Linked DNA regions of Homo sapiens: all the other regions are linked to region 5. The links come from fine-mapping of genetic effects on gene expression. A gene starts in region 5. Each other region holds a variant in brackets. All regions are shown on one strand. Distances are between the middles of the regions.

What was found.
Region 1: its variant is fine-mapped to the expression of IGFBP7 in monocytes after LPS (Fairfax 2014, PIP 0.95).
Region 2: its variant is fine-mapped to the expression of IGFBP7 in whole blood (INTERVAL, PIP 0.98).
Region 3: its variant is fine-mapped to the expression of IGFBP7 in whole blood (TOPMed, PIP 0.93).
Region 4: its variant is fine-mapped to the expression of IGFBP7 in left ventricle (GTEx, PIP above 0.99).
Region 6: its variant is fine-mapped to the expression of IGFBP7 in whole blood (INTERVAL, PIP 0.91).

What each region holds. Positions count from the first base shown.
Region 1 is chr4:57,030,960-57,036,032 of GRCh38, forward strand. POLR2B (RNA polymerase II subunit B) reads left to right here. Exons shown (of 25, transcript NM_000938.3): 25 at 1-199. The coding sequence ends at 29. IGFBP7 (insulin like growth factor binding protein 7) reads right to left here. Exons shown (of 5, transcript NM_001553.3): 3 at 2,236-2,352; 4 at 1,467-1,593; 5 at 1-377. The coding sequence ends at 358. Among named protein-coding and RNA genes, the nearest start is that of POLR2B, 55 kb to the left of the region's middle. The variant C/CAAA (reference allele first, on the strand shown) is at 3,090.
Region 2 is chr4:57,038,242-57,043,314 of GRCh38, forward strand. IGFBP7 (insulin like growth factor binding protein 7) reads right to left here. Exons shown (of 5, transcript NM_001553.3): 2 at 2,583-2,692. Among named protein-coding and RNA genes, the nearest start is that of POLR2B, 62 kb to the left of the region's middle. The variant A/T (reference allele first, on the strand shown) is at 2,579.
Region 3 is chr4:57,144,655-57,149,727 of GRCh38, forward strand. The region is part of intron 1 of IGFBP7-AS1 (IGFBP7 antisense RNA 1); the gene reads left to right. Among named protein-coding and RNA genes, the nearest start is that of IGFBP7, 37 kb to the left of the region's middle. The variant G/T (reference allele first, on the strand shown) is at 2,322.
Region 4 is chr4:57,045,952-57,051,024 of GRCh38, forward strand. All of the region lies in intron 1 of IGFBP7 (insulin like growth factor binding protein 7), which reads right to left. Among named protein-coding and RNA genes, the nearest start is that of IGFBP7-AS1, 61 kb to the right of the region's middle. The variant A/T (reference allele first, on the strand shown) is at 2,760.
Region 5 is chr4:57,107,342-57,112,414 of GRCh38, forward strand. It overlaps IGFBP7 (insulin like growth factor binding protein 7), which reads right to left and starts at 3,044. Exons shown (of 5, transcript NM_001553.3): 1 at 2,536-3,044. The coding sequence starts at 3,010. It overlaps IGFBP7-AS1 (IGFBP7 antisense RNA 1), which reads left to right and starts at 2,421. Exons shown (of 5, transcript NR_034081.1): 1 at 2,421-2,629. RefSeq lists a silencer at 3,113-3,182.
Region 6 is chr4:56,970,065-56,975,137 of GRCh38, forward strand. NOA1 (nitric oxide associated 1) reads right to left here. Exons shown (of 7, transcript NM_032313.4): 2 at 3,794-3,958; 3 at 3,084-3,289. Among named protein-coding and RNA genes, the nearest start is that of NOA1, 5.0 kb to the right of the region's middle. The variant G/A (reference allele first, on the strand shown) is at 1,918.

The DNA of each region.
Region 1 (5,073 bases), 76 kb before region 5:
GTATTGCACCGCGAATGATGAGTGTTTAGCTATTTTACAGGAGTCAACAAGATAATTAAATATCTTGGTGTCTTGTTTCTATTGTGTGGCTTTTTAAAAATGACAAATATGTACTGTGTTGTGATAAAAAGTATTTTATTTGTTTAATGATATGCATGCTTTTCTTCTGTAAATATATAATAAATTTTTGTAGATAGTCTTGATGTGTGATCTTTATTTTGTATTTCTCTGTGTAAAACCAGTGAATATAACTAAAGTGTTAGTGGATTGGATTAAAAGAAACTTATTAGGCAAGAACAGGTAATGTAGTTATCCATGACTACTTTTAACCATGCAGACTAATAATATTCTGGAGGTTTATAGCTCGGCACCTTCACCTGTTTAAAAAAAAAAAAAGATAAAAATTAGTTACATATGGGGATGTGGTTGACTTTTGAATTGGCAGGTAGTTGAGTGTTTCCAAATAAATGAAGATGTTAAAATATGGGGATAAAGGATATATGAGTAATTGTATAAATGATATGCTGGAGTGCTCTGTGGAACTCAAGTTACATGATTTTAGCTATGAAAGGCAATTTTGCTGTATTGGTTGATGCATCAAAGGTACATCTTATTATAGAACTGGAAGAGCACATTTCACAATGAGATTCAGAGAGGTTAAAGACCTTTCCTTTGTAGTCCGGATCTCCTTCAAAAGGTAAAGTGGAGGAATAATTAGTAGCAGAGCTGAGACTCAAACGCATGGCTTGACTCTTAGCTACTGTTCTGTTTCATTGCCTGACATTACACATTATGGCTGAAGAGAATCTGACCAAATACTTCTTTACTTAATATTTCTTTTCATATCACAGCTGAGTGATCTGCACAGTGGAATGGTTTGACACATGGTGACGGTAAATTTTGTTCTTTTGTCTAAGGGAAAGCCAATTCAGACATCAGTTTCATAGAACTATATAAATGTAAAGTAGCACTGCTATGACACAGGATGGGTTCTTCAGAGGAAGCTTTTTGGCAGTGAAGGAAGGGGAGGCAGAACAGAACTGGGTATTTGCCAATATACTCTCCTTTGTGGCCTTTTCTTTTAAAAGCAAAAGTGAAGGGCGAGAATTGCCCACAATCATTTTCTTTTAAATAGGAATTTAATAGTCACAACACAAAGGGAAAATGCCAAGTAGATAGGTAGAAAGCTATGGGAAATAGAAGCCATTCCAGGCAAGTTTGATTTTGACTCTTACATGTTAGATAAGGTAAAAGCATCTAAGTCATAATAACGATGTTCAGTCACCCATCCAGATAATCTTTTGGAGTCTCATGCTGTACATTTTAATGGCATACTTAATGCCCTTATGGGTTGCTAACTACAGAATTTCATCAATAGCTACGTCTGATACTTTCATACTTAGTTCTGTTCTTTTTAAAGCAAATGTACTAGTCATTTTTAAATGGCTGTGAGATTTATTGTGTACCTTTTTTCACTGGTATTTCATGTAAGGCATCAACCACTGTAATTTTTGCTGATGCTGAAGCCTGTCCTTGGGAATTGGATGCATGGCACTCATATTCTCCAGCATCTTCCTTACTTAGAGGAGATACCTGTGAAAGAAAAAAGATCTAGTATTCCTCTGTGGTGGTCTTCTCTTTTGTCAGTGGTTCCAGTGAGGTCATTATTTCATAAATTTCCTAAGATGACCAGGGGATTCATAGCAAAGGTACTGCTAGAAGCAGTGCAAGTCCTGTGATAGGAGACTTCGATAACTACCATATTTGGTTTGCTGAGGATTCATATGAGGAAATGTCATGGACAACTTTTGATCATACTGCATAGGTTAAAAACTGGATAGGTACACATTATCGGTTTAAGGGCAACCTTGATAAGGGTATATGATCAAAGTATTCTCCATGAATATCCAGGGTCAAGTAAAATAAGGTATTTATTAATCGATAATCAGTTAAAACAATGCTTGGGCCACGCAGCTCCGTGTGAGGATTTTGCTTTGAACTCTTAGGAAAATACTAGTTCTTGTTAATTCATTGGTTGTTTTCAAAACATGCAATAAAGCACTTTTCCTTTAGTTTCTCTGAAAGAGGAGCAGCGACTCCATGGTAAGGCTATTCCAAACAGATGTGGAAGAGCAAGCACCTTTAGGCTGGCGGTACATCAGGCACCTTTGCCAGGTCTGCTTATGTCTAATGCTAAGAATGAAACTCTTGCCAGCTCTTGGTACTGGTACTCACCAGCACCCAGCCAGTTACTTCATGCTTTTCTGGGCCACCCCGGGTCTGAATGGCCAGGTTGTCCCGGTCACCAGGCAGGAGTTCTGTCCTTTGAACTCCATAGTGACCCCTTTTTACCTGCAAAAACAAAAGGAGAGTAATACTGAGTTTTGTACACCAGATCATCTACTTGGAAGTGGCCACATCCCTACAATTGCACATAGTGTATGTCAGACTTTCTAACAGAGTAAACCCAGCATTTCACTGAACTATTTCCCTTTCCTAAATACTTTTAAAATATAGATCCTCTTTTATTTCTTCCTGCCAGTTTCCTGCTAAGCGTACATGTTTTAAACTAATGTATTTTTCTGCATGCCTGGGGAATATACATGGTCATAATTTCCTGCCACTGGTCACCATCATTCATTCACTCATGCTCTTGGAAATTCTGCTTCTCAGTTCCAGGCCTTTTGCCTGTCATGCCATGTTCAACTGATGAACTGTCACCCAGCACTAGGTTTGATGCTTGGGACCTTGGGGCTCTTCCTGCAACAGCTTCATCAATGGAAAATAGGCTGAGACCAAAGCCAATACCATTACTTTATTCTGAGGGCTAAGAATTAATCAAATGATTTACTGAACACCTAAGATAAAAAACACCTATCAAAGGAGTTCGAGACCAGACTGACCAACATGACAAAACCCTGTCTCTAGTAAAAACACAAAAATTAGCCGATTGTGTTGGCGAGCACCCGTAGTCCCAGCTACTCTGGAGGCTAAGGTGGGAGAATTGCTTGAACCTGGAGGCGGAGGTTGCAGTGAGCTGAGATCGCGCCACTGCACTGCAGCCTGGGCAACAGAGTGAGACTCCATCT[C/CAAA]AAAAAAAAAAAAAAAAAAACAGCTGTCAAATACATGTGCTGTCATTGTTCTTTTATGACAAAACTTGCTGACTGTTTCTGTGTATGTCATGTCAAGATTCAGAAGAAACTCAGTTTCTTTGGTGCAAGGCCAATACTGAATAGTATCCTTTTTGCCCTCATTTTAAAAGGCAAAATGTTTTATTATATAAACTCTGGAAAATATACAAAAGAATGAAATTCACTTGTAGCTCCTCGATACATATACATTTAGCAGCTGAGTTACAGAGTACAAATATTTTAAGCCTTGTGATAATGGTGAGTTTTAAAAAAAAAAGGATATACGAATTGTTTGTTCATTCCATCCCAGATCTCCTTTAAGAGCCAACCTGACATTTATTGATATTACCTTTGTAATTAGAAAGGATTTACAACCTCAAATAGCTAGTTTCCTTTTCATTTTCTTCTATAATAAAGCAAATCTTAATAAAGACCAGATAATAGTGTGTATATATAGACACCGTATGTATAAATATAATAAATATATAAATAAATATATACACTTTATTAACTTCCATCTCAGTGTTGCTTTTCCCATGTGGATCCCACTCCTACCATGTGTTTTTTGGTACTCTGCTGTTGTGTCGGCTTCAAACCTACACTGTATTTTCTCAGCTTTATGATGCCAGGACTGGGATTCAGCAAACCACATGTGATCTAGGCCAATTCCTGCTCTAGAAAAAATATCTTGCATGATTTGGAAAGCCTGGCTTTTTGCATTTTTTTTCTGGAATTTTCCCACATTGCCACTATTAGTGAGAGAAAACCACGTAACTTAATGTCTTTCTCATAAATGCTGTGAAGACAAACATACTCAATAGGTACCTTTTCCCTTAGTTTCCCAAGTAGCTGGCAGAAACGGTTTATGCTAATACAGCTTTTGAAATAGTTACTTAAAAATGGGTTGTAAGAATATTTTGGTAGAAGTATTAATTTGATCCAAGGTCTCAAGTAATATGACTCTGACCTTTATTTACTGAATTTCAGAATCATATGAGTTTTATGTGTGACCAAAGCAAGAAAATAAACACTGCAGCACTGAAATACTGAATCTCAGCAACTAAGCCTCAAATCCCATAGCTCTTAGTAACAGCATTTTATGCTAATTAACCTGATCCACTATGGAAAGGGAAATGTATCTTGTTAAATATAATATTTAACATAAATCACAATATAGATATACTTTATTTTTCCCTTCTTTTCACAAGTGTTGGCATGGCGTATTTTAATTAATGTTACGTAATTATAAAAGGTTATACATCATGTAGAAAACATAGAAAAAAGTGCCAAGAATTTTCATATGACAAATTTTTATATGTCAAACTCTCCCTTATTCGTGTAAGGGGATTCTAAGTGTTGTTAAGTATGTGTTTTCTTTTTTTTTTGAGACAGAGTCTCGCTCTGTCACCCAGGGTGGAGTGCAGTGGTGCGATCTCAGCTCACTGCAACCTCTGCCTCCGCCTCCGGGATTCCAGTGATTCTCCTGCCTCAGCTTCCCGAGTAGCTGGGATTACAGGCATGTGCCACCACGCCTGGCTAATTTTTATAGTTTTAGTAGAGACGGGGTTTTGCCATATTGGCCAGGGTGGTCTCGAACTCCTGACCTTAAGTGATCCACTTGCCTTGGCCTCCCAAAGTGCTGGGATTACAGGCATGAGCCACTGTGCCTGGCCAATAAATATGTGTTTTCTAGTTAAAATTGGAATTAAAACTAAAAAAGAGAGGTTAATATTCAGTGCTAGTAAAGATGCAGAGAAATGGCACTTCTCCATTTCTGGTGGGAGTGTGAATTACTACAATCTATTTAGAAAGTAATCTGACAATGTCTGTTAACACTGAAACAAATATTTTGACTTAGGTAACTGTTGGGGAATCTATCTTATAGCAATACAATCACTAGTATGTATGATATGTGTACTTTGATGCTTAAAGTAGGTTTTTTAAG
Region 2 (5,073 bases), 69 kb before region 5:
TCACAATGCAGCAGGGAGAAGGGAAGCCCTTTCTTTCCTCTGGGGTCTTTAAGCTGTAATAAAAATGTGAGTGGAGTTGATATCTCCCACTGCATAGGAAGCTTTCTGAAGCAGAAGAAAATGAGACTAGTATATTGAGAGCAAAGAGTCAAGAGTTAGAGTTCTGATGGCGTGTGTACCTGGATGCAGGGGCCCTTGAGGCTGGATCCCGCCCCGCTTTTTGTTTTGCCTAGGCTGGTTTCAAATGGGCTGGTAGAACTTGCAACAGAAAGAGCTCCGACTGCGGGAGCCACAGTCCTCCTGGAGTTCTAGAAGTTGCTTCTCCGGTCACACAGAGAGCAAACAAAATAGTCAAGGGAGACTATCATCCACCTTAGAGCTTGCTGGAGAAGTAAGGCAGCTTAAAATGGATGTCTGGTTATGCCCTTTTACTTAAACTAAGTTCCTTTTTTGGTAGCATGAGTTTGATAATTTTTTAATTTTTATTTTTCGTAGGATAGTTGTGAGGCTCAGCAATTCAAAATGTATAAAAAGGACAAAAACGACCAGGCGCGGTGGCTCACACCTGTAATCCTAGCACTTTGGGAGGGCAAGGTGGGCGTATCACCTGAGGTCGGGAGTTCGAGACCAGCCTGACCAACATGGAGAAACCCTGTCTCTACTGAAAATACAAAGTTAGCCAGGCGTGGTGGCGGGTGCCTGTAATCCCAACTACTTGAGAGACTGAGGCAGAAGAATCACTTGAACCCGGGAGGCGAGGTTGCGGTGAGCCGAGATGGTGCCATTGCACTCCAGCCTGGGCAATAAGAGTGAAACTATGTCTCAAAAAAAAAAAAAAAAAAAAAAAGACAAAAACGTAAGTGTATGGTATAATTGTGAGGTGTTAGTTGATGGCAAATAAGTGTTTTCTTTTCCCTTCTCCATACATGCTGAGATGATGTTGTCCTTCAAATATGAAGATAATTATACAAGATAATGCCACTTGAAGGGAAAAATTTCCAGGAACAGTAGCTAATGTCTACTGAGTGCTAACTATGTATCAAGTAATTTTTACTTGCATTACTTTATTTCATCTTTATGATAATTACATGCTACTTTTATAAGGTAGAGAACAGAGTTGAGGCTAACAGCAGTGGTTTTCAGTCCAGGGCAATTCCCCAGCTCCACACCCTTAGGGGACATTTGGCAATGTCTGAAGATGCTTTTAATTCTCACGACAGGGGGGATGGGGGAATGCTACTGTTATATAGTGGGTAGAGGCTGGGGATACTGCTAAACATCTTCCAAAGCACAGGCAGCCCGCACAACAAATAATTATCTGGCCCCAAATGTCAATAGTGCTGAGGCTGAGAAACCCTGACTTGCAGAGAACTCAGCCACCCTGGCTAAGGAATTCACACTCTTTTTTTTTTTTTTTTTTTTGAGACAGGCTAGAGTGCAGTGGGGCAATCACAGCTCACTGCAGCCTCAATCTCCTGGCTCAAGGGGTTCTTCCACCTTAGTCTCCTGAGTAGCTGGGGCCACAGGCATGCCTCACCATGCCCAGCTAATTAAAAAAATTATTTGTAAGAAGGAAGTCTCACTGTGTTGGTCAGGCTGGTCTCAAACTCCAGGACTCAAGTGATCCTCCTGCCTCAGCCTCCCAAAGTGCTGGGATTACAGGCATGTGCTACTGCACCCAGCCTCACACTTTTTTTTTTCTTTTTTTCCATTTGGGAAGTCATTTCAAAGCTGATTTATTAAAAGAATATCATGCTTTTTCCACTTGGGGCTGGGGCCAGCATTTAGCAAAATTCAGAAAGGAGACATTTTTTTCTTTGCTATTCCTCCTCTTGTTCCTTTTTAATGCTCTGTTCTGGAGTGGTCTCCTCTGTCCCTAACTTATGGTTCTACAGCCTTGGTACTTAGGAGAATAGATCCCACCTCATTCCTTCTATCCTACTTCCAAGTGCCCTTAAAATGTACTCATCCATCTCCCAGCACTTAGGGAATCTGAAAAAATAATCCATGCTCCCAGGAGAAGGCTACAGGGCTTTGTGTCCTTTTACCTTCTTAGCCGAGCCTCCCAGTAAAATAATAATAATGCCTCCAAGCAGACAGGATCTAAATTATCAGCTAAATGTTCAGTCTTAAATGAGGAGACTGATGCCATCACAAACAGCTTGGTGGGGGCTTGGAGGTGGTATTTTGGGACAGAAAGAGAGAAACGTACGCTTTTAACCCCTATGCTATACTGTCTCCACTGAGGGCGCAAACACAGACACACACACTTTCACTCGCACCCACATATGCACACACATACACACACCACAGGTGCACACACACCCTGAAGGTGGGTTCAGGTGTTCAGCATTATTGTTCTTCCAGTTTCTCAGATTCTAGGATGCTGCTAACAAAAGCATGGCAGGGACTGGTTTTTGTTCCATGAATCCAGGGGAGGGGCCTGTATGACTGCCCTAAGGCTTCACCTTGCGGGAGCCGCAGTCAACAAAGCAGGCTGAGGATTTAACGTTTTACCATCCTTGTGCAGTGCAAGAGAAGCTTGTCAGCCTAGGATGTCTCTTAAAGTCTGTGCCAC[A/T]GACCTTGTTCCAGATGAGGACAGGTGTCGGGATTCCGATGACCTCACAGCTCAAGTACACCTGGGCACCAGTGACATTCCAGATGTCCTTGGGGGGCGTCACTATGGAAGGACCTGCAGGAGAGGGCACAAAGCCAAAGTCATCTTTTAAACAGTCCTTCACATGAGTCAGCATCTTAGGGAGAAAATAATAATTTTGTTTATGAGGCCATCCCCTTGATGGATTATCTGAAGCAAATTTCAAAGACCACACTGGCTTCCTCCTGCCACCAACATGATTTTAAGGTCCACTTTGGGAATGCATAAATCTAAACAAACAAAAACAATTAGGAAGAAAAATGTGTTATTAAAATTTTCTTCTTCCCCAGACCATGCTTAAATGAGTGCTAATTTACCAGCTGTTTTTTTATTATCTGGGACTTTTCCAGTAGTAATAAAATTTTAGTTCCAAAATGTTCAATGTTTTTCTTCTTTTGTTTACCACTATTTCTATTTTGGGTTGGAAAGGCAACAAGCAACCGCTCCATGGGTAATGAAGAAAAAAAATCTAAGAGAATATTTGAAAATGTGCTAAGCACCCAGACAAGATGGAAGTCTCTGCCTCAAGAAGCTTAGGATCTAAGGTTGAAAAGGGTGATGAGGCAGGGAAGAAAAGAAACATGTGGAGTGCTGTGTGCGTCAGGGGATTGGAAGGGACATCTTTATTTTTAATTTAATTTTATTATTATTTTTTTGATACAGAATCTCATTCTGCCACCCAGGCTGGAGCGCAGTGGCTTGATCATAGCTCACTGCAGCCTCAAACTCCTGGTCTCCAGCGATCCTCCCACCCCAGCCTCCCGAGTAGCTGGGACTATAGGCGTGCACCACCATGTCAGTTAATTTTTATTTTTTATTTTTGTAGAGACGGGGTCTTGCTATGTTGCCCAGGCTGGTCCCGAATTCCTGGCTTCAAGTAATTCTCCTGCCTCAGCCTCCCCAACTGCTGGGATTACAGGTGTGAGCCACCATGCCTGGCCAGGAGGCACCTTTGAACAGAAGAGGCCCGGGTGTCGAGGAAGGTGGTACAGGGGTCCTTCTTCCAGTGTGCTCAGGAGAGGCAGCTGGTAAGAAGGAAGAAGAGTGACTGATCTATTGGGTGTGACCAGGGTCCCCAAGGAGAGGGCCCTTTCCCAGCGTTCTCAGTGTCCAGGTCCCTGGCAGGAGGCATTGGCAAGTGGGGGGCACCCTCAAGCCACGGCCTAAATAGAGTCAGCAGGTATGGGGCCACTGAGAGAGGCCAGAATGATGCTTCTCCATTCCCCCAATTAGGGAACACACCCCCCACCTTCTGTATCATGGCACCCTCTGGAGAAGTTCCCTACTCAGAGTCAACACAAACCATGTGTATCCTTTTTGCTATGAAAGTGGTATGACTCTCTGGTCCTGGGTTAGCTAACTATGGCCTGTGGGCCAAATCTGGCCTGCCATCTGTTTTTGCATGGCTTATGAGCTAAGAATGGTGTTTGGATTTTTGTTTTTTTAAATTAAGAAAAATTTTATTTTTTTGAGACAGAACCTTACTCTGTTGCTCAGGCTGGAGTGCAGTGGCATGATCTTGGCTCACGGCAACCTCCGCCTCCCGGGTTCAAGCTCAAGCAATTCCCATGACTCAGTCTCCCAAGTAGCTAGGACTACAAGTGCATGCCCAGCTAATTTTTGTGTTTTCAGTAGAAACAGCATTTTGCCACGTTGGCCAGGCTGGTCTCGAACCCCTGAGCTCAAGCGATCCCCCCACCTTGGCCTCCCAAAGTGTTGGGATTACAGGCGTGAGCCACTATGCCCGGCCTGCAGTTTCAAATGGTTGAAAAAAAATTAAAAGATGGATATTTCATGACGTGTGAAAATTGTAAAGGAAATGTCCATAAAATAAAGTTCTGTTGGAACACAGCCACACTTATTTGTTTCCTGTGGTCTCTGGCTGCTAGAGCAGTTGTGGCTGAGACTGTATGGCTAAAATAGTCACTGTCACTGGCCTTTTATAAAGAAATTTGCTGATTCCTGCTCTAATCAACTGAGGGAGACTGATGCCTAAATAAGACATTATGGGAAAGTCTCAGGACTTCAATCCTTTACACATTTTCCAGAGCTGATGCAAGTAACCCCCTGGGTGATTTCTGGTTTGGCTCTGAAACACAAAACTGTGGAAGCCAACAGATACCGAGAGAGCGGGTGCTTGCTGACTGCGCCTGTCCCCTGACGGCCTGGCTTCCCGGCATCTGCAATAGAGATGTGAACACCAACTTTTTAGTTACTGGTAATTAGTATGTCACTTCTGCTAATTCTGAATGCCAGGGTTCAATCACCAGGGGCCTTCAGAAAGACTTGGGACCGTCCGCAGAGGAGGGTCATGGAGCTGGCAGTCTGGGATCCTCATGTGGGGCAGTGTGAGACTCCAGAACCTAACCTGGCTCTTATTCCATGCTTAGCATGGTTTCTTGAATGAATAAATTAAT
Region 3 (5,073 bases), 37 kb after region 5:
TTGCTTTTTAATGTTTTCTTTTGGGTTTTGGATTCTTTTGAATGCAAAACTGTATTGTGACTCATCATGAAATACCCAGTTTTATTTGGGTTACAAAAAAAGAAAACATTAAAAATTCATAATTCCATCTTTAGACTCTACTAGGGTTTAAAACATGGTAAAGATAGTATGTATGCATATGTTTATTTATTTTTTTGAGATAGGGTCTCACTCTGTTACCCAGGCTGGAGAGCAGTGTCACGATCTCGGCTCACTGCAATCTCCGCCTCCGGACTCAGGTGATTCTCCCACCTCAGCCTCCTGAGTAGCTGGGACTACAGGTGTGTGCCACTGCACCTGGCTAATTTTTGTATTGTTTGTAGAGATGGGGTTTTACCATATTGCCCAGGCTGGTTTCAAACTTGTGGGCTCAAGTGATCCATCTGCCTCCCTTCCAAAAGGCTGGGATTACAGGCATGAGCCACCCTGCAAGGCCAAGAATTTTTTTTTTTTTTTTTTTTTTTTTTTTTTTTTTTTTTTTTTTAGAACATGGCTCACTGCAGCCTCGACCTCCTGGGTTTAAGCAGTCCTCCCATCTCAGCCTCCCAAGTAGCTGGAACTATAGGCATGCACCACCACATGGGCTAATTAGTGTTTTTTTTTTTTTTTTTTTTTTTTTTTGTGGAGATGGGTTTTCGCTTTATTTCCCAGGTTGCTCTTGAATTTGTGAGCTCAAGAGATCCTCCATCCTTGGCCCCCCAATGTGCTGGGGTTACAGGTGAGAGCCACCATACCTGGTCCATTTATTGTCTTTTATTCCTCTGAGGAGAGCACACACACAGAAAATACATCATGGTCTTTTCAAGCACGTAGAGCTTGCTAGCCACTGGCTTCTTCTCTTGATAATGGCTCTAATGTCATAATTAGCTTGGCCTCTTCTAGAATGTTCCTTTCTGATAAAGGCATTTTGGCTGTAGGAACTTGTGACCAATGCTGTAGGTGCAATCTCAGAGGACTTGAGACATCAAAACCTTTTGTTTCCTCTGTGAGAGAGAATTCTCTTCTGTGTAGAGAATTATTGATCAACCATCTTTAGTTTAAATGATTATGTGTAGCTGCTAGTTCTAAATAATACATGGATTCCCTTCTGTAATTCTCTATACATGCTTTCACCAAAATAAATAAATAAATGATGAAAACTATGGAAGACAAAATCCTACATTATTTTGAAACAACAAAGGCTAAAATAGGGGCAAAACCCCCTTCAAGTCCTTTCAAGAGGGTTGAAAGGAAACTTCCTTTCCTTCTGTTTGGACCTCAGGGGAGATTCTTATCGTTTCTGGAATCCCATGCCTGCTTATGTTTCCCAGATGTTCTTTCAGATAATTAATCCCTCCTCCAATTTATTCCTCCTCTTCTCCCTGCACCCAACAGAAATAGGTTGAAAATTCTTGCACCTTTTTGATAAGAGAGAATGGACATAAAAAGCATCTAATGACTAAAAATCCTCATATAAATGTTGTAGAATCATTTCAATTTTTAATAGAAGTGTACCTGTTAAAAAAGGACTAGAGAATCCACCAAATATCAGAGTCCCTTGGTCTTGCATTCCTTAGTTTCTTACTCTTTTTTCTTTGGTGATCACTGTACCTCCTTCCTTACCCTTTCTCTCTTGTCCATTTCTGGAGAGTTGCTCTTGACTTCCAGGAATTTCTTGGCATTTCTGAAAACCTAGTTCCCCTCGTCCCCTTCTTATCCCCATGGTGTCTGATATTACTTTTAATATCATCTTCAGTTATCTCTGTTGCATGTTGGTTCCATTAATATGTGCTGAATAGCTCCTTTTTGCCAGGCATGTCTCTTGGAACTGAAGATTGATGCAAAGATAAATTGAGATCATGGTCCCTGCCCTTGAAGGTAGGAGAAAGGAAAGCCCCACATTAATTCACTATGCAGAATCTGACTGAGATGTCAACAACCCACACTGTTATACAGATATGACGGCAGGTGGGGGAGCTGGGGAGGACACTTTTGTCTGCATGACTCTAAAGATCTGCCTGTTTCCCCTCCACTGTGCTGTCCTCCCTCAGCTATGGCTGGAAGGCTGAGAAACAAATCCACTACAGTTGGGGAAAAGGAACGACCACATTGTGAGCATCCGCTATGTGCCTGTCACTCTGGATATATCGTTTAAAGGATATAAAGTAGCCATTGAATTAGTGTCTGCACTTTCTACATGGAGGGAGGGTTGAGATGTTTTAATTAGGTGACCCAGATGCATATTTAGAGGCTGTGAGTGAGAACACAGAGGACAGGAAGCATTTATAGGGTGGCGGTTTAGG[G/T]TTAAAAAGTTCGTATTTCAAGATACAGCAGGAGGCAAAATGGACAAGGCCAAGGAAGAGTGGAAGTGGAAATACTATGTCTCAGAGAGCAAGGGGTATAGTATTTTTCCTGAGATAGGATTGAAGAAGGGGCAATGGATAAAGAGATACATTCAAAGATGGAGAGAAGAGCATTTGGAGAATCTATCCCCAGCAGGTTTTTACCAAAGCCAGTGGGTCCAATGATGAAGGTTACATTAGATCATTTCAAGGGTTTGGTGTCATAAAACACAAGAGACAAACTGTTTCTATTAGTAGTAGAAATGGGAAGGAGCAAAACAGATACACACTAAGTAGGTGGGATGCCAGCAGTTCAGTATTACCTTTATAATAGTTACATAAAACAAGCCAGGAAAGAAAGTTAGTGAATATGGGCTCTGGGTCATTATAGAATTCATTTAGAGAAGAAGAATTTCAGTTAGTAGCCTTCCTGAAAAGAGATGATAAAGAGGCCAGGATTACGCCCAGGGTCTAAGTACCGGCTGAGTATGAGGAAATTGACTCTCCTCCAACTCTGGGGTAGAAGAAACATGATTGGATCAGAGGGAGAGAGATGATTGAGTCATTAGTTAGGCAAAGCAAGAGCTGACGACAATGATAAAGCACTAATGCATCCAAGAGATTTTTTTTCCCCACTCTAGTGGCAATTTTTTACACTTTAAAAAAAGAAAGTGAAGTCGACTGATTTGTCTTGCTGACTTTAGAAAGCATTTAAAAATCTTTTAATGACACTCGATTATGTTAAACGGTACATTTCTCCTCTTTAATTTCTGCTTGCCTCAAGTGTGTCCACCCACTTGTCCTAGTTTCCCTGATTAGGCACCTGGTGGCAACCAATGATGTGAGTTACAGGAATGAAAAGGCATAAAAACCTACTTTAGGTTTTACTGAAGTTCCAGGAGGCTGGGCGTGGAGGCTCCCACCTGTAATCCCAGCACCCTGGGAGGCTGAGGTGGGAGGATCGCTTGAGCTCAGGAGTTTGAGATCAGCCTGGGCAACATAGTGAGACTGTCTCTACAAGAAATAAAAAAATTAGCCGGTGTGATGGTGCACTTGTGTAGTCCCAGCTATTCGAGAAGCTGAGGTGGGGAGGATAACTTGAGCCCAGGAGTTCAAGGCTGCAGTGAGCTATGATTCAGCCACTGTACTCCAGCCTGGGCAAAAGAGTGAGACTCTGTCTCTAGAAAAAAAGGTTCCAAGAATGTCATGGGGAATTTTATCACTTCTATTCTCTGGACATTTCACTGGGACTAATTTCTCTCATAAATTGGATGGGTGTTTTCCTTGAACAGATTCTGGACTAAATTGGGAAGTGGTACCTAAGTGCCTTCTTTGCCTCTTTTCTGTGACTCATTTCCTGCTCTTCATGTCTCTCTCCAATCTGGATGTTTCATATTCTCATAAAGGCTTGTGCTCAGTGCCTGTCAACTTAGAAGACACCTCCGCTAATGTGGAGATAATAGCTAGCCCTCTAAGAGCTTAGCTTCTGGGATTCTTACAAGGGCCATTCAGAGACCTCACTTTGATTGAACTCAAATGAAACAATGTTTTTTTTTTTTTGGAGACAGGGTCTCACTTTGTCACCTAGGCTGGAGCACAGTGGCACAAATATACCTCGCTATGATCTCGAACTCCTGGGCTCTAGCGATCCTCCTGCCTCATCCTCCTGTGTGGCTGGAACTACAGGCATGCATCATCATGTCCAGCTAATTTTTTTCTTTTTATTTTTATAGAGACAGGGTCTTGCTATGTTGACCCTGGTCTCAAACTCCTGGCTTCAAGTGTTCCTCCTGCCTCAGCCTCCCAGGTCCTGGGATTATAGGCACAATCCACTGTGCCTGGCCTGAAACAAATCTTTAATGGTAAAATTTTAGGTATCATAATAGGTTGCTGGAGAAGTGTTCTGGATTAAGGAAACTTTGGGAGTCCTTTGAATTCTACCCTGTGAGAAGCTTCACACACTTAGAATTTCTGAGCTCACCAGACTCTGATGTCCTAGTTGCTAGGAGTTTAGAGTAACATGAAGCTGACACTTGGACACTGTTCTTTTCCTCTGTTAATCATCTATGACTAACCAACCACATTCTGCAGGACTTAAAAGTATTCTAGTAGCCAAATTAGCTAGTAGTCCTTAATGCTTTTAAGCATCAGAAAGTGAAAAATATCAAAGAACTATTGCTGCATTTGAGGAGCTAGAATGAAGTTTGGTTTGGCTTGAGGAGAATTGATGACACCCAGGAGTATGTGCTGGTTTCCATTTGGTTCCCATTCACAGGCAAACGGAAAGTACATACAGCCTGGGGTAGGTCAGGCCAGCAGATATTTAAGTTGTTCAGTAGTGGCTGGGCCTGGGAATATGGGGTGATTTTGAAGAATTAAGTTCTGCAAAAGATTCAAGAGTACAAAGCTGTCTTCATCTTAGTCAAATGCAGGCAATCAATCTGTCCTTTGCATGTAATAAACTGGGACCTTAGAAGTGAAGATTAAATAATCTGGGATGGAAAATTGGTTGGAGAAGGTCCAGCCTGACCTACATGTAGACATTTCTCCTGCCTTGTCTTGTCTCTTGCTACAAATCATCCTGCAAGGATTAGGTAACAGCAACTTCAATTCACACACCTTTGAAGGATGGTGACTTCAGCATTATCCACGGTGAAATTCACAGCCAACAATCAATACGTATTTTCAGGCAAAGAACCATTATTCATTTCTG
Region 4 (5,073 bases), 61 kb before region 5:
CTGACCTCAGGTGATCTGCCCACCTCAGTCTCCCAAAGTGCTGGGATTACAGGTGTGAGCCACTGCACGCGACCAAAATCTCTTGATAAAAGCAAATTACAGAAGTTTTAGAGAAAGGTAAATGAAGATACATGGTGAGAAAGAATAAGCAAGCGACTTAATGGTGACCCACAGGGACACCAAGAGGACAAGTCTTGTATAGAAGAGAAGAGATGCTGAAAATGTTTTCGGTGGATACAATGCCAGCCCCAACAATGCTGCACTCTCCTCCCCGACTCTCAAGAACTATCATCCCACACATTCCATTGATCAGCAATTTCACTGCCAACAATCATCTTGAATTGCAGGTCTGTCCTGCAATTCAATCCCTGACAGTTCTGTTCTACCTCAGGAGAGCACTGTACTCAATGACTCTGTACCAAATAACTTCTAACTCTTTCCACTCTACCTTTCTTCCAAGAAGGGCAAGGCAGATCGAGAATTTATTTCTGTTTTTAAGAATAAAGAAATTTTTAGGTCACTCTGAGCTAATTTTCTCATACAGAAAGCTCAAAATCAGTCCTCAAGGCCAGGTCAAGGGTAATAACAACATTATCATCTAACTCATACTCAGTGTTTGGATTCCGTTTAAAACAGGTCACAGAATTCTTAAATGTATAGGGACAAACATCAGGATAGGTCCAATTATTTATTTATCCTTGCCCTTGTTCCATTAAGAGCTCCAGACTGCTCAAACATCTGTCTAGCAAACATCCTGTTCATAGAATAAATGACTGTGCGCTGCCTCCCTCTGCCTTGTACCCACCCTCGGCAACTCCAGAAAGCAACCAAGTCATCTGCAGTGCTGCCTGATGTAAAGAGATGTCCACCCAAGGTGGACTACCTACATTTTTCTATCCAGATGACTGTACCCAAACCAGGCTACCCCACTTTCCTTTTACCTTACACACTCAATTAATTCTCATTCAATCTCTTTAGATCCTTCTCAACCCTCTAAATTCATTTTCTTGCCTTCCCTATTTTTTATAACTCTCGCTCAGTAACTTTAGAGTGTCTCTTCCTTTTGATCATTCCTTAGAGGGTCTCTTCTTTTTGAACATTCCTTGAAGGGAAAGAAGGGAGAGAGGATGATATGGTTTGACTGTGTCCCCACCCAAATCTCAAATTGTAGCTCCCATAATTCCCATGTGTCATGGGTTGGGGGGTACGCGGTGGAAGGTAATTGAATCATGGGGACAGGTTTTTCCTGTGCTGTTCTCGTAATAGCGACTAAGTCTCATGAGATCTGATGGTTTCATAAAGGGCAGTTCCCCTGCACATGCTGTCCTGCCTGCTGCCATGTAAGATGTGACTTTGCTCCTCCTTCGCCTTCCACCATGATTGTGAGGCCTCCCCAGCCTCATGGAGCTGTGAGTCCATTAACCATCTTTTTCTTATAAGTTACTCAGTCTCGGGTATGTATTTATTAGCAGCATAAGAACAGTCTAATACAGAGGAGGTGAAGGAGAAGGAGAAGAAAGAAAAAATGAAGAAAGATAGCCAGATCCTGAAGGAAGTTATAGCAAGGAAGAAGAAAGTTCTAACCTTGGAAGAAAACAAAAATTCACTACTATGAAATACATCCTTGGAACAAAATTACATTTGTACTCCATAAGTTTATGCAAATAAAAAATAAACATTAAAAATAAAGTAAATTAAAATTCAATTTAATGAATCATATCACCTTAAAAGTACTTAGAAGTCTCCTGCAGAATCTCCACCTAAGTCTGCATACTCCTCCTTTGCTACATTTTTTCTTTTTAGAGACTGGGTCTTCTCTGTCACTCAGGCTGGAGCACAGTGGTGCGAACATGGCTCACTGCAGCCTCAATCTCCTGGGCCCAAACAATCCTCCCACCTCAGCTTCCCAAATAGCTAGGACTGCAGGTGTGTGCCACCACGCCTGGCTAAATTTTGTATTTTTTTAGATATGGGGTCTTGCCATGTTGGCCAGGCTGGTCTTGAACTCCTGAGCTCAGGCAACCTGCCTGCCTCGGCCTCTCAAAGTGCTGGGATTATAGGTGTAAGTCACCATGCCTGGCTTCTCCTTTGCCCCCCTCCGCCCCCCTTTTTTTTTTTGAGACGGAGTCTTGCTCTGTCGCCCAGTGTGGAGTGCAGTGGTGCCATCTCGGCTCACTGCAAGCTCCACATCCTGGGCTCACGCCATTCTCCTGCCTCAGCCTCCCAAGTAGCTGGGACTACAGGCATCCACCACCACTCCCGGCTAACTTTTTGTATTTTTAGTAGAGACGGGGTGACCGTGTTACCCAGGATGGTCTCGATCTCCTGACCTCGTGATCCACCTGCCTCGGCCTCCCAAAGTACTGGGATTACAGGAGTGAGCAACAGCACCCGGCCTCCTTTGCCACTTTTAATTAAGTTCTAGACAAAGGACTCACAGACTACCAGATTATTTTAAGAATATTTGATTATAATCTAGAAATAGGTATGTTCTGAAAAAGTACTACTGATACAGAAAAGGTAGTTTTATAGATGGATGGATTTAAATTTGGAGTATTATGAGTTGGTTCAGAAGAATTTAAGAAAGGCAGTTCTCACAAAACACACAAATATCATGAGGAAAAGACTTTGACATGAAATTAATTTTGAATTTGACCAGCAATTCATTCCAGCTGATTTTATATAAAGTCTTGGTAGTGAGGACAGAGTTAAAATGTGTTATCCTATAAAAAGCACAGCAGGAACAATATTGAAGAAGT[A/T]TGTGAACAATTTCCTAGTCCCTTACAGAGCACAAAGCACTCCCCAGCCATGACCTGAGATGTCCTCATGATGTTACTATTTAAAAAAAAGAGACAAAAGCATTCTTGGGGACAGAACACTTGGCTCTGAATCCTTGTCTACAATTTATAGCCAAAAGACCTTGGACAAGCCACTTAACCACTTTTACAAGATGAAGAAACTAGGAAGTGTCTAAGAATATCCTCTTTGGGTTTGGAAGTAAGTGAACCTATCATGAATGTGTCCTAGAGCTGGGACATAGATGTCAAAGATGCTTTGACATTTATGAAGTTCTGAAGTCTCACTGTCTGGGTCTGGAGCTCTCATTCTCTGCAAATCAGTTCAATGCATTTCCTCACCTACCTAAACACGATGTATGTGACTCATAACATGGTTCACTTCCTCAGGGATTAAAAAAATAGAGCTTATAAAGGTATCACCCTTTACCCAGTTAGCCAATTTTTTTTTCATCTGAAAGAGCTGTGTAGAAGATATTAGGAGAAGTCATGTTTGAAAGCTAAATATACTTGAATTAAGCCTGGGAAATGGTCAAAAGTCAAATTACCCCCAATAATCATTTCTGTCCTCCAATATCATATTGTACTATATATTTTTTGCTTCGTTGCTTTCTCATTTGCCCATCATCTCTTCCATTTTTACCAATTCACTCTTCTATGTCATTTCTACCCAAACTCACTGTCTGCTCCCAGCAGTCCTGCTCACCCACCATTACATGTTCATTACCCCTTCCAGCACCTTTGCTTATGCTGATGCCCTTACCTACTTGGAATATCTTCCCTCCTCTTATTTCTTATCACACTTTATTTGACATTCTAAGACTGAAGTTTCATTTCTCTTTGACATTTTTTGCGGCCTGACAGCTTCAGGCTCCCCCTTATTTCTTCTCTAAAATCCTGTTGGTTTCGGTAAGTTCCACAGAGTGTAGTGCATCACTGTTTTCTAATGCTTTCCTTAGCTGGCCTAATTGAGGATGCCAGCATCCTGTCGGAATCAGAACAGAACCAGGAACTACGGAATCAAAAGATCTTCATGTTCATTGGAAGGAGACAGAGCTCAGGCTGTGTGAAGTGGGTATAGGGCAGCAGTAACTTCAGAACAACATAACATGATTAGCCAAACAGAAGTGAAAAGATAGCCACTGTCTTGAAAATGCACCAGTGTACACATGGCCAAAAGCGTACACCTCACCAAAGTGGTGTTATAACTATCTTATTTATCAGCTGGCAGATTATTAATCATGATTTTCTTTAATCTTTCACTTGACTTTCTCTTGCCATAAGCAGTGTTTCTTGGCTACTAACCACTCACCAACCAATTAGTATATGACCAGGAGATGCAAATTAATTTGAATATACATCACTTGAAGCAAATCCCACCGAGATGGGTAGGTCTGCTGGAAGAAAATGATTATCAATTATCCTCACACCAAAATCATGCTGGGTTATACTATTCACATTATGGTTCTCACTGAACATTTATTTTATTTTTATTTAAGTTTTTTTTTTTTTTTTTGAGACAGAGTTTCGCTCTTTCGCTCAGGCAGGAGTGAAGTTGTGCAATCTCGGCTCACTGCAACCTCTGCCCTGTGGGTTCAAGCGATTCTCCTGCCTCATCCTCCTGAGTAGCTGGGATTACAGGCAGCCATCACCATGCCCGGCTGATTTTTGTATTTTTAGTAGAGATGGGGTTTCACCATGTTGGCCAGGCTGGTCTCGAACTCCTGACCTCAGGTGATCCACCTGCCTCAGCCTCCCAAAGAGCTAGGATTAAAGGCATAAGCCACTGCACCTGGCTTTTCAAAAGTTTTTATAGACAGAGTCTTGCTCTGTCACTCAGGCAGGAGTGCAATGGTGCTACGATCATAGCTCACTGCAGACTCCAAACTCCTAGTCTCATGGGTCCTTCTGCCTCAGCCTCCCAAGGAGCTAGGACTACAGGCAAGTGCAACCATGCCCGGCTAATTAAAAAAGAATTTTTTTTTTTTTTTTGTAGAGACAGGGTCTTGCTTTGTTGCCCAGGCTGGTCTCGAACCCTTGGCTTCAAGTGATCCTCCCTCCTCGGCCTCTCAAAGTGCTGGGGTTACAGGCATGAGCCACTGTTCATGGCCTCTTGCTGAGTACATGCTAACATGGCTAAGACATTTGAGTATGGGGACTTCTCCGAGTTATGATAGATTTGCAAACAACACTCACCTTGACTCTTGATGCTGGGTCCTGAAAATAGTGTGTGCATTAATACCAAATAAGGGGAAAATCAGGGTTTAAGAAGGACCTC
Region 5 (5,073 bases):
ACTCAAGCATAACTTAAGTTTCTTCTGAGAATAGAAGGGAACCTAGAGGTCTAGAGGAACCTAGACAATGCATTTCCTATTCTGTGCAAAGCCCCAGTATGAAATGGCACAGAAGTAAATGGCACTCTGTCCAGTTTGCTTCTATGATTGTCAAAACCCATCCAGGTGTCAGAAGAAATATTTAGGGGATGTGATAGGGATCAGTCTATTGTCTCTGCTGTGGAAAGTTTCTGCTGTGGGAAAGGCTTCCCATTCTCTTCTGCTCTCTTTGGCATTCTCCTATAAATGGTCTCTGCCATTTAGAACTCATCTCTCTCAATTTAGGATGAGAAGAAATGGCTAATTTAAGTCAAGGTTTCCAGTTTTAGATGCTGTTTTCTCTAACATTTCCCCAAATATAAAGAAAAGCCGGGCCGGAACCCTCAAAGGGTTTGCAGTCTGGAGAGGTACTGAGCTGGGTGTACATGGTAATGAGGTTATGAAACTGGTTCTATATGACTGTCAGTCTCAATATTTTATAATCAGACTGTGTGAGTGTTTGGTGATGTAAGTAGCAGGTGAGAAAAAGGAATATTAAGTATAAACTAGAAATTGACAACACTTGAACAATCACCAAGCTAACCTTCTGCTCTGATAAGGCAAGTATCTGCCATTTTGAAAAAACTATAAAGTTCCCCATTGTAATGTTTATAAGAAAATCTCAATATTTGGAATAAATTCTTAAATAACGCACATTTATCTTTTCATGATGTGACCGACAAATGAGATCCAAAGTAACAAATAACTGTTTCTATTGTAAACATATGCAGATTATTTTGGGTTGCAATTTTCTAAGTTTAAGGTGATGATACTATAAATAGTTACTAGTGAGTTACACAATTTAAGGCTTTCAATAGTGAACTCTGAAATTGATGACATACAACCTATTAGTTTGTGGACTTCTGGGAAAAGCTCTAAAGAAAGAATTTGGAAATTCTGGAGAAAGTCTGAACTGTGTTAAAGAAGCAACAGCTTCTGTAACCTCAGAACTGCCTCCTCTCCCTTTTCTACCTTGGCTAAGATCAGGAGCTGCCAACATTGAATGTCTGACTTTCCCTTGAAAATACTGCCAATGGAAAATGTTATTTCAGGCATTAGAGTTAAAATTTCTATGTGTGTGTGTATGTGCGTGTATTTGCAAGTCCAGACTTTATTTTCTTCTTTCTTTCTTTTTTTTTTGAGATGGGGTCTCTGTCTGTCACCCAGGCTGGAGTGCTGTCATGTGATCTCGGCTCACTGCAACCTCCGCCTCCCAGATTCAAGCGATTCTCCTGCCTCAGCCTCCTGAGTAGCTGTGATTACAGGCATGCACCACCATGCCCAGCTAATGTATATATATATATTTTTTATTAGAGATGGGGTTTCACCGTGTTGGTCAGGCTGATCTCGAACTCCTGACCTCGTGATCTGCCCATCTTGGCCTCCCAAAGTGCTGGGATTACAGACGTGAGCCAACCCACCCGGCCTATTTCCTTATTTCATTTACAGCAAGCTTGGACTTGTTTGGAATAAAATAAACAATCAAACATAATCTCAAAGACATTTCTGCTGAACAGTGTATCCTGGGGACAAATTATGCAAAACAATACAAATCAAAGAAATAGGAAGGAAAAACAAAATGGTCAGAAGGTTGACAACAAAGTGCATCACAAAAACAGTCTTCAAAGAGTTTGTATTTTATTTTTGCCCACAAATAATTAGCTAGTTAGATTACTGTTTGAGAACCTATAATTTTTAGAAAGTGGACTATTTTCTTCAATACTAAGAAATCAGGGCTGTGCACGGTGGTTTATGCCTGTAATCCCAGCAGGCCGGGATTACTTGAGCTCAGGAGTTCGAGACCAGCCTAGGCAACATAGTGAAACTCCGTCGCTATAAAACAAAACAAAACAAAACAAAAAACCAAAAATTGGCCAGGCGTGGTGGCACAGGCTTATAGTCCCAGCTACTTGGGAGGCTGAGGCAGGAGGATCGCTTGAGGCAGAGGTTGCAGTGGGCCAAGATCGTGCCACTGCCCTCCACCCTGGGCGACAGAGCAAGATCCTATCTTTTAAAAAAAAAAGTCTGTCTGGAAGTCCTTACTTTATATTTAATTGTCAAACTCCTTTCCCCCATCTCTTGACTTCACCTCTCTCTACATCCCCAAGCCAAGAATGATGAGAAATGGACAGATGTTAGCACGAGTTGGGTGCGCTTTGGGCATGGGGAAGTCTGAGGTCTCGGAAAATCTTTTCTACATATACACCCGGCCCTCACTTTCTGGACGCACGCAGCAAACTCTCAAAATAAAACCACCAAAAAGGAGAAGGGGGGGCGTCGCCCACCGCTCCTGGCATTCCGCGGCTGCCAACTCTTTCCCTCCCATCTGGCTCCTGGGATGCCCGCGGGGGAATCGCAGTGAGCAGCGCGGGGCGAGGCCGCCGCGGACGCCCCGTCGGATGTGCCCTTCGCTGGGCCGAGCGGCGCAGGGTTGGAGAGGGAAGCGCTCGTGCCCACCTTGCTCGCAGGTGCCCTTGCTGACCTGGGTGATGGCCTTCTCCCCGCGGCTCTCGGCCCTCTGGCTGGCGGCGCGCAGCTGGCAGCCGCTCGGGTAGGTGGTGCCGTCGCTGCCGCACACCGGGTAGCGGCTCTTGCACACGCACACGCCGCTTACACCCGGACCGCCGGCTGCTGCCCCGGCTTTACCCTTCCGCCTCTTGCGGCTCTTCACGCACTCCATGCCCGGCGCGCAGTACCCCCTGCCGGCGCCGCCACCCCCGCACGGCTCGCCCTCGCCGCGGGCGCACATAGGGCAGCAGCCGCACGCGTCGCGGGTCTCGCCCAGCAGGCAGCCCAGCGGGGGCAGGGGCGGGCAGGAGGCCGGCTCGCAGGGGCCGCAGGTGTCCGAAGAGGAGGAAGAGGAGAGGGGCAGGAGCAGGAGCAGCAGCCCAGCGGCGCCGAGGAGCAGGGCGCGCAGCGACGGCCGCTCCATGGCGGGGTGCGGTGGCAGCGGCAAGGGCGCGAGTGAGCCGTGTCGGGCCGGCCGGCGCCTTAAACCCGCCGCCCCGCCCGGCCTGTCCGCGGGAACCACACCCCGGGGCGGTGAGAGCACGGGGGCCCCGCCCGTGCCGCCCTCCCGGCCCCGCGGGGCCTGCGCGCGCGCTCCTGCTGGCGTCGGGGGGTGAGCGGGCACCCGGCGTGACCGGCCCATGGGCGCTCGGTCTCACGCCCGCTTCGCAGAGCTCACCCCGCCAGCTCCTGCTCGGTCCCCAGTCCCCTGCCCCGAGCCCTCAGGGATCGCACCGCAGTGCGAGCGGCTCTTCCACCCTCTGGTTTCTCCCCGTTTCCGGTCAATATATTTAAACTTCTTAACAACCACGGCTTCGAGACGATCCAGGGTTTCATCTATTAAATCCTCCGTGGGCCTGAGACACCTGAGTGCTCATTACTCTGTGGTTTGGGAAGCTCTCTTAAGAACAAGCTGTTAAAAACCCCCACTTGTGGACTGTGTCCCCGCTGGCCACAGGCCTGCTGTGGTCTTGGGTGTCAAGCACTAAAAGGACAAACCGTTGCCAACCACTTCCCTTTCTGGAACCTCTTAACTGCCTGCACCTCCCTCCCCGCTTTGTCTCCCAGTGGCATTCAACAAGACTCTGTGCTTTTTTTGTGCTGAGCCGTTTTCAGTGAGTACTGGAATCCGTGTGAGAGCTGTGCCCTTGTTTTGAGTTCTTGCTGAACTGCTCGCCCTCCAGCAAGCCTCTCGGGAGAACAGAGCGCAGCTGAGAGGAGCAGGGGTCCCAGCTCCTTCCTCGTTGGAGCTGCCACGGAGGCACCTAAAGCGCCCCCAGTCTTCACCAGCATTCCAGGAGGTTTTTGATATAAACGGTGGACTCTTCCTCAGTCTTTCTGCGAAGTGCTCTGCAAACTCAACTTGAAAGCCTCTCTTCCCAGGAACACTGGCCTCTCCAATGCAGACATGGAAGTTGCTTTCACTTTTTAACTGAATGTGTAACATTGCAGCGTGCATTATTCTGCATGTCACATTGTGGTTCTTTTGTGTTCTTTTTTCTTAGCATAAATCCAGGGATTTACAGGGTTGCTGACTGAAAGCCAGCAGTTCAGTTCATAATCCCATTAGCAGTGTAAAGAACTCATTCTCAACAGACTCTTACAAGGATAATTATTGCAAATTTTTTGAAAATTAAATGACCACAAAATCGGGGGGTGGAGAGTGGGGAAACATCCTCCAATCCAGAAAAACCTAGCACTGCTTTTTGGCCTCTCCTTAGTGTATTATAGACAAGTGGAGCATTTTTTTTCCCCTCAAAGGTCATATGTTGACCTGACAGTTGTTTAAAAAACAATGAAAAATCTTTACAGCAGAGTTTCCCTAAATATTTTTGTCTTTGTTCCATCCTAAGAGATGCAGTTTACATGACCCATTTGTTTTCTTGAAAAGGAAACAAATGCAGAGTGCACTCTATTTCCTATTGTATTTAATTTCTTTCTTTCTTTCTTTTCTTTTCTTTCTTTTTCTTTTTTTTATTTTTTTGAGATGAAGTCTCCCTGTGTCGCCTAGTCTGGAGTGCAGTGGTGAGATTTTGGCTCACTGCAACCTCTGCCTCCCAGCTTCAAACAATCCTTCTGCCTCAGCCTCCCGAGTAGCTGGTATTACAGGCATGCACCAACATGCCCGGCTAATTTTTGTATTTTTACTAGAGACAGGGTTTCACCATGTTGCCCAGGCTGGTCTCAAACTCCTGACCTCAAGTGATCCACCTGCCTCGGCCTCCGAAAGTGTTGGGATTACAGGTGTGAGCCACTATGCCCGGCCCTGATTTCCTTTTTATTAATTCACTGGTCAAGAGCCACTAAATTGGTTCCATGATCTAGTATGACGATCTGTCATAGTTTTAGATTCTCCAGAAGCTTTCTCTGAGACAAGGATTCCAGTGCAAGTAGGTCACCTGAGAAGCCACATCAGGACACAGAGATTGAGGGTTGGGGCAGGCAGGTGAGCAAGCAGGAAGGGAAGACAGCCAATAAAGGTGCTTA
Region 6 (5,073 bases), 140 kb before region 5:
TGCACCATTGTGCCCAGCTGAGCTCAGGAGTTTGAGACCAGTCTGGGCAACACGGCAAAACCTCACCTCTATGAAAAATACAAAAATTAGCTGGGGTGGCGTGTGTCTGTAGTTCCCAGCTACCCTGGAGGCTGAGGTGGAGGATTGCTTGAGCCAGGGAGGCAGAAGTTACAGTGGGCCAAGATTCCACCACTGCACTCCAGCCTAGACCAGACTGGGCAACATAGCGAGGTCCTGTCTCTACAAAAACTAAACAATTAGTTGGGCATGGTGGTATGTACCTGTGGCCCTAGCTACTTGGGAGGCTGAAGTGGGAGAATTGGTTGAGCCCAGGACTTTGAAGTTACTTGATCACGCCACTGCATTCCAGCCTGGGCAACAGGGGAAACCTTGTCTCTCTTTTTTGTTGAGACAGGGTTTCACTCTGTTGCCCAGGCTGGGCTGCAGTGGCATGATCTCGGCTCACTGCAACCTCTGCCTCCCAATAAGTGTATCAAGTGATTCTTGTGCCTCAGCCTCCTCAATAGCTGGGATTACAGGCATGTACCACCATGCCCAGCTAATTTTTTGTATTTTTAGTAGAGATACAGTTTTGGCATGTTGCCCAGGCTGGTCTCAAACTCCTGGGCTCAAGCAATCCTCCCACCTCGGCCTCCCAAAGTGCTGGGACTACAGGTGTGAGGCACTGTGCACAGCCTGAGTCTTAATACTTTCATTTCACAACAGAGATCCTTGGTTCAGTCTGGGAAACCCTGGTTTAAGACATCAAATAAGTTTATCTGTAAACTAACAGAGAAGCAAACTACCAGTGCTGACAGACGTTTATATCTAAAAATTTGGGGTTCTCATTCTGCTGTCTAGAGTATTTTGCAAATTCTTGCCTTTCTGACACAACTATTTAATAGAGGATATATGACTGAAGTAACTGCTATGCCTGATCTAATAGCATCTGAAAGGGAAGAATTAGTCTGGGCGTAGTGGCTCCCATCCACAATCCTAGCACTTTGGGAGGCTGAAGTGGGTGGATTACCTGAGGTGAGGGGTTTGAGACCAGCCTGGCCAACATGGCGAAACCCTGTCTCTATTAAAAATACAAAAAGTAGCTGGGTGTGGTGGTACATGCCTCTAATACCAGCTACTCGAGAGGCTGAGGCAGGACAATCGCTTGAACCCAGGCGGCAGAGGTTGCAGTGAGCCAAGATCATTGCGCCACTGCACTCCAGCCTGGGCAAGAGAGTCAGACTCCATCTCAAAAAAAAAAAAAAAAAAAAAAAAAAGTATGGTGGGGGAAGAATTAGTTCATTAAGCTAAAGTGACAGAATATTATTAGAAAGCAGCTCTGAACTTTTGGACTGCTAAGGAAGAAAAGATGGCATGAGCAATTATTCCAGGAGAGCAATAAAATTTAAAAGGTGTGTATGATTCAATGACAGGGGACACCAAATAGAATACAATTCTGAGAATGTAACTATAAGTGTTCCTGATGAGGCCAAGAAAAGTACCTAAGAAACCAATGTGGTTTTGTAGGGAGATACAGAGATAATTAGAAAATCGGAAACTGGTCAGTAACCAGATTCGAAGGAAATGATTAATGAATCTGTTGTGAGGCTGTATCCTGGATGCACATTTGAGTCAATCAATGATCTGAATGAAGATCCAAACTGCAAATATAAAAAGTAATGAGATTGAATGAATATTTAACAGAGTAAGATATAGGCTGAATTTAACAAGACAAAGTCAAAGTTACCTATGAGGCCCAAAGTTGTCCATGAGCAATTGGATAAAAGAGAGGCATAGGGACAAGACAGGTGGAGTTAATGCTATTCTTTTTTTTTTTTTTTTGAGACAGAGTCTTGCTCTGTCACCCAGACTGGAGTGCAGTGGCACGATCTCAGCTCACTGCAAGCTCCGCCTCCC[G/A]GGTTCACACCATTCTCCTGCCTCAGCCTCCCGAGTAGCTGGGACTACAGGTGCCCACTACCTCCTGGCTAATTTTTTGTATTTTTAGTACAGACAGGGTTTCACCGTGTTAGCCCAGATGGTCTCGATCTCCTGACCTTGTGATCTGCCCGCCTGGGCCTCCCAAAGTGCTGGGATTACAGGCGTGAGCCACTGCGCCCGGTCGGAGTTAATGCTATTCTAAATCATGCTCACCTGAGAGCACTGAGTTCTCAGTGTCACACTTTAAGAACAAACATAGAAAACATTCTGAAGAGGCCTGGGCCAATGAATAGCCTGTTTCCTACAGCACAGCTGTAGGAAATGAAGACAAATAATCCAGATTGTGGGCACAGTGAATGCTCAACGTTTGCTGGATGAAGTAATGAAAGAGAAGAAAAGGGAGGGATAGGTGAAGAAGAGATGGGACGTTACATTTTAAAATATTTGTCTGGCAAGGGAAATAGGTATTACCTTAGTCCCAGATGGCTTTGGGGAACAATGGATACATGTTACAGGGAGACTATTCAGCTCAGTACACTCAATACAAAGAGAAGGTCAAAGACCCAAATGAGTTACCTTGGAAGGTGACATGACAGTTTCAGCTTTGGTGAGTCACTCCTTTCAGTTCAAGATGGAGGACCCCTTGATGGATATGTTACAGAGGTAATTCAAGCAGGGACTAGGGAGTTGGACTCCAGTGATATTTATGTGTTTTTCCAACCTCAAAACCTAGGCTTCTGTAAACGTTTCCCTAACCAAGGTAACAATCACAATGATAAAATAAGTTGGTTGTCAGCAATGAAGTCTATCAAATGGAACACAGAACTTGATGGCATACAGATTCACCCCTAAACAGCTTTCATGAATGAATCAGAACTGAGTCTAAAATGGAAGTATACTTCTTTTCCTGTTTTCTGCCAATTAAGACAGCAGTACTTGTGCAATTGAAAGTAAATGTTTCTGAGGCTGATATGACTAGTAATAAAACTCCAGTTTCCCATTTAGCTGGCTCTACATGCATTACACTCTTTCTCTATTGCAATTCCCCTGTCTTGATAAATTGGCTGTATCTGGGCAGCAGGCAATATAAACCCATTAAAAAAGAAAAAGAAAGTAAATGTTTCTAAAAGAAACCAAATACATACACAATTTTCTTTTGTAATTCCAGGGGTGTCATAAAACCAGTGGGCATCTTTCACATCTTGTGCAGTCAATTCTACTTGTTTGGTGGATTTGTGTGTACCCATAACAGGGTCATTTTCCATGTCAAAGGCAAGTGAATCAGCATCAAACTCAAAGGGAATGTTATCCTTCTGTTCTTCTGAATACAAGAATGTCCTTCCAACTCTTCCTAGAACAAGTTATAGTAAGGTTATTAGTCACTCCTTTAATACTTTTAACTCCAGACATAATTTTTATGTTTCCCTCAAACAAGTTACTAAGATTACAGTGTAGGGAAGTGAGACCATAATGATACTTTTGCTTTTTTTTTTTTCCAAAAAGCAGTGGGAGTCAACTCTTGCAATAATCAAGCGTGTGGCTGGCTGTGTACATGGAGTGGCGGGGGCAAGGGTGTGTGGAAATCAGACTGTTTTAAAGAAAGGCTGAAAAGATATACCAAGGAAAGACAGACAACCTAATCTAAAGCTGCTGCATGGAGTAAAAACTTTTACTACCTGTACTGCTCTGGGTTTCCAAACAGTAGCCTTATCGCTAAAGGGCCTCTTTGTTGCAGAATAAGGAAGGCAGTCTCTCCCCACAAAAACTGGCTAGCCTCGGACAGCTGTATTTCAGGTTGCTTAACAAAGAATTTTAGCATAGTACCAACGAGGGTTTTCCCATAGAGGATGCTTACCTACGACATAACCATGCTTTTTGAGGACATTAAGCTGATTTTGTTCTTGCTCACTAAGATCTTCTTCAGCTTGAGTTGAATCTTTTTTAAGTCTTTGATGCCTTTTAAACATTCTGTAAGGAGTTGGGTTGCAAATAGGAAACTTCAGAAGGTTTAATGTAGTACCTGAAATACACAGAATAAATACATCTTTACAAAAGGGAATAAGGGGGAAGAAAATGAACATTTTTGAGGATCTACACTGTGTTGGTTACTGTAATAAAATATAAAATTACTGCCACTTTACAAATGAGGAAATAGGTTAAGAGATTAGTTCACAGGGGAAACCAGAATTGGAATCCAAAATCTGTAGGCCCGATTTCTTTCCATTTTTATCACATTACCATTCAGTATAAAAGTAATTTTTCTGTAAAATTCAAAGTGCAAGACAGAGAAGAGCAGCTTACTAAATGAAACTTTGGTTTCAAGGGAACAAATGGGGCAGTCAGTTTTGTCAACTTAAATTTAAGCCTGGCTGAGCGTAGTGGCTCACACCTGTAATCCCAGCACTTTGGGAGGCCCAGGCGGGTGGATCACTTGAGGTCAGGAGTTCGAGACCTGCCTTGCCAACATGGTGAAACCCTGTCTCTACTAAAAATACAAAAAATTAGCTGGGTGTGGTGGTGCACACTTGTAGTCCAGCTATTTGGGAGGCTGAGGCAGGAGAATCGCTTGAACCTGGGAGGTGAGGGTTGCCGTGAGGCGAGATCGCACCACTGCACTCCAACCTGGGCGACAGAGTGAGCCTCTGTCTCAAAAAAAAAAAAAAAAATTTAAACCATAGAAGGACTCATTTTCTAATTACAGAAGTTTGTTTCTTTCTTTCTTGTTTTTGAGACAGCGTCTTGCTCTGTTGCCCAGGCTGGAGTGCAGTGGTGTGATCTTGGCTCAGCCTCCCAGGTTCAAGCGATTCTTCACCCTCAGCCTCCTGAGTAGCTGGGATTACAGGCACCAGCTACCAAACCCGGCTAAGTTTTGTATTTTTAGTAGACATGGGAGTTTCACCATGTGGGCAGGTCTGGTCTGGAACTCCTGACCTCAGGTGATCTGCCCACCTTGGCCTCCCAAAGTGCTCGGATTACAGGTGTGACCCACTGCACCTGGCCACAGAAGTTTCTTAAAGTCACAAGACTGATACTTCTGTTTTTTTGGGTCTCTGTTGTCCAGGCTGGATTGGAGTGCAGTGGCCCAATTAGGGCTCACTGCCACCTCAACCTTCCAGGCTCAGGTGATTCTCCCAC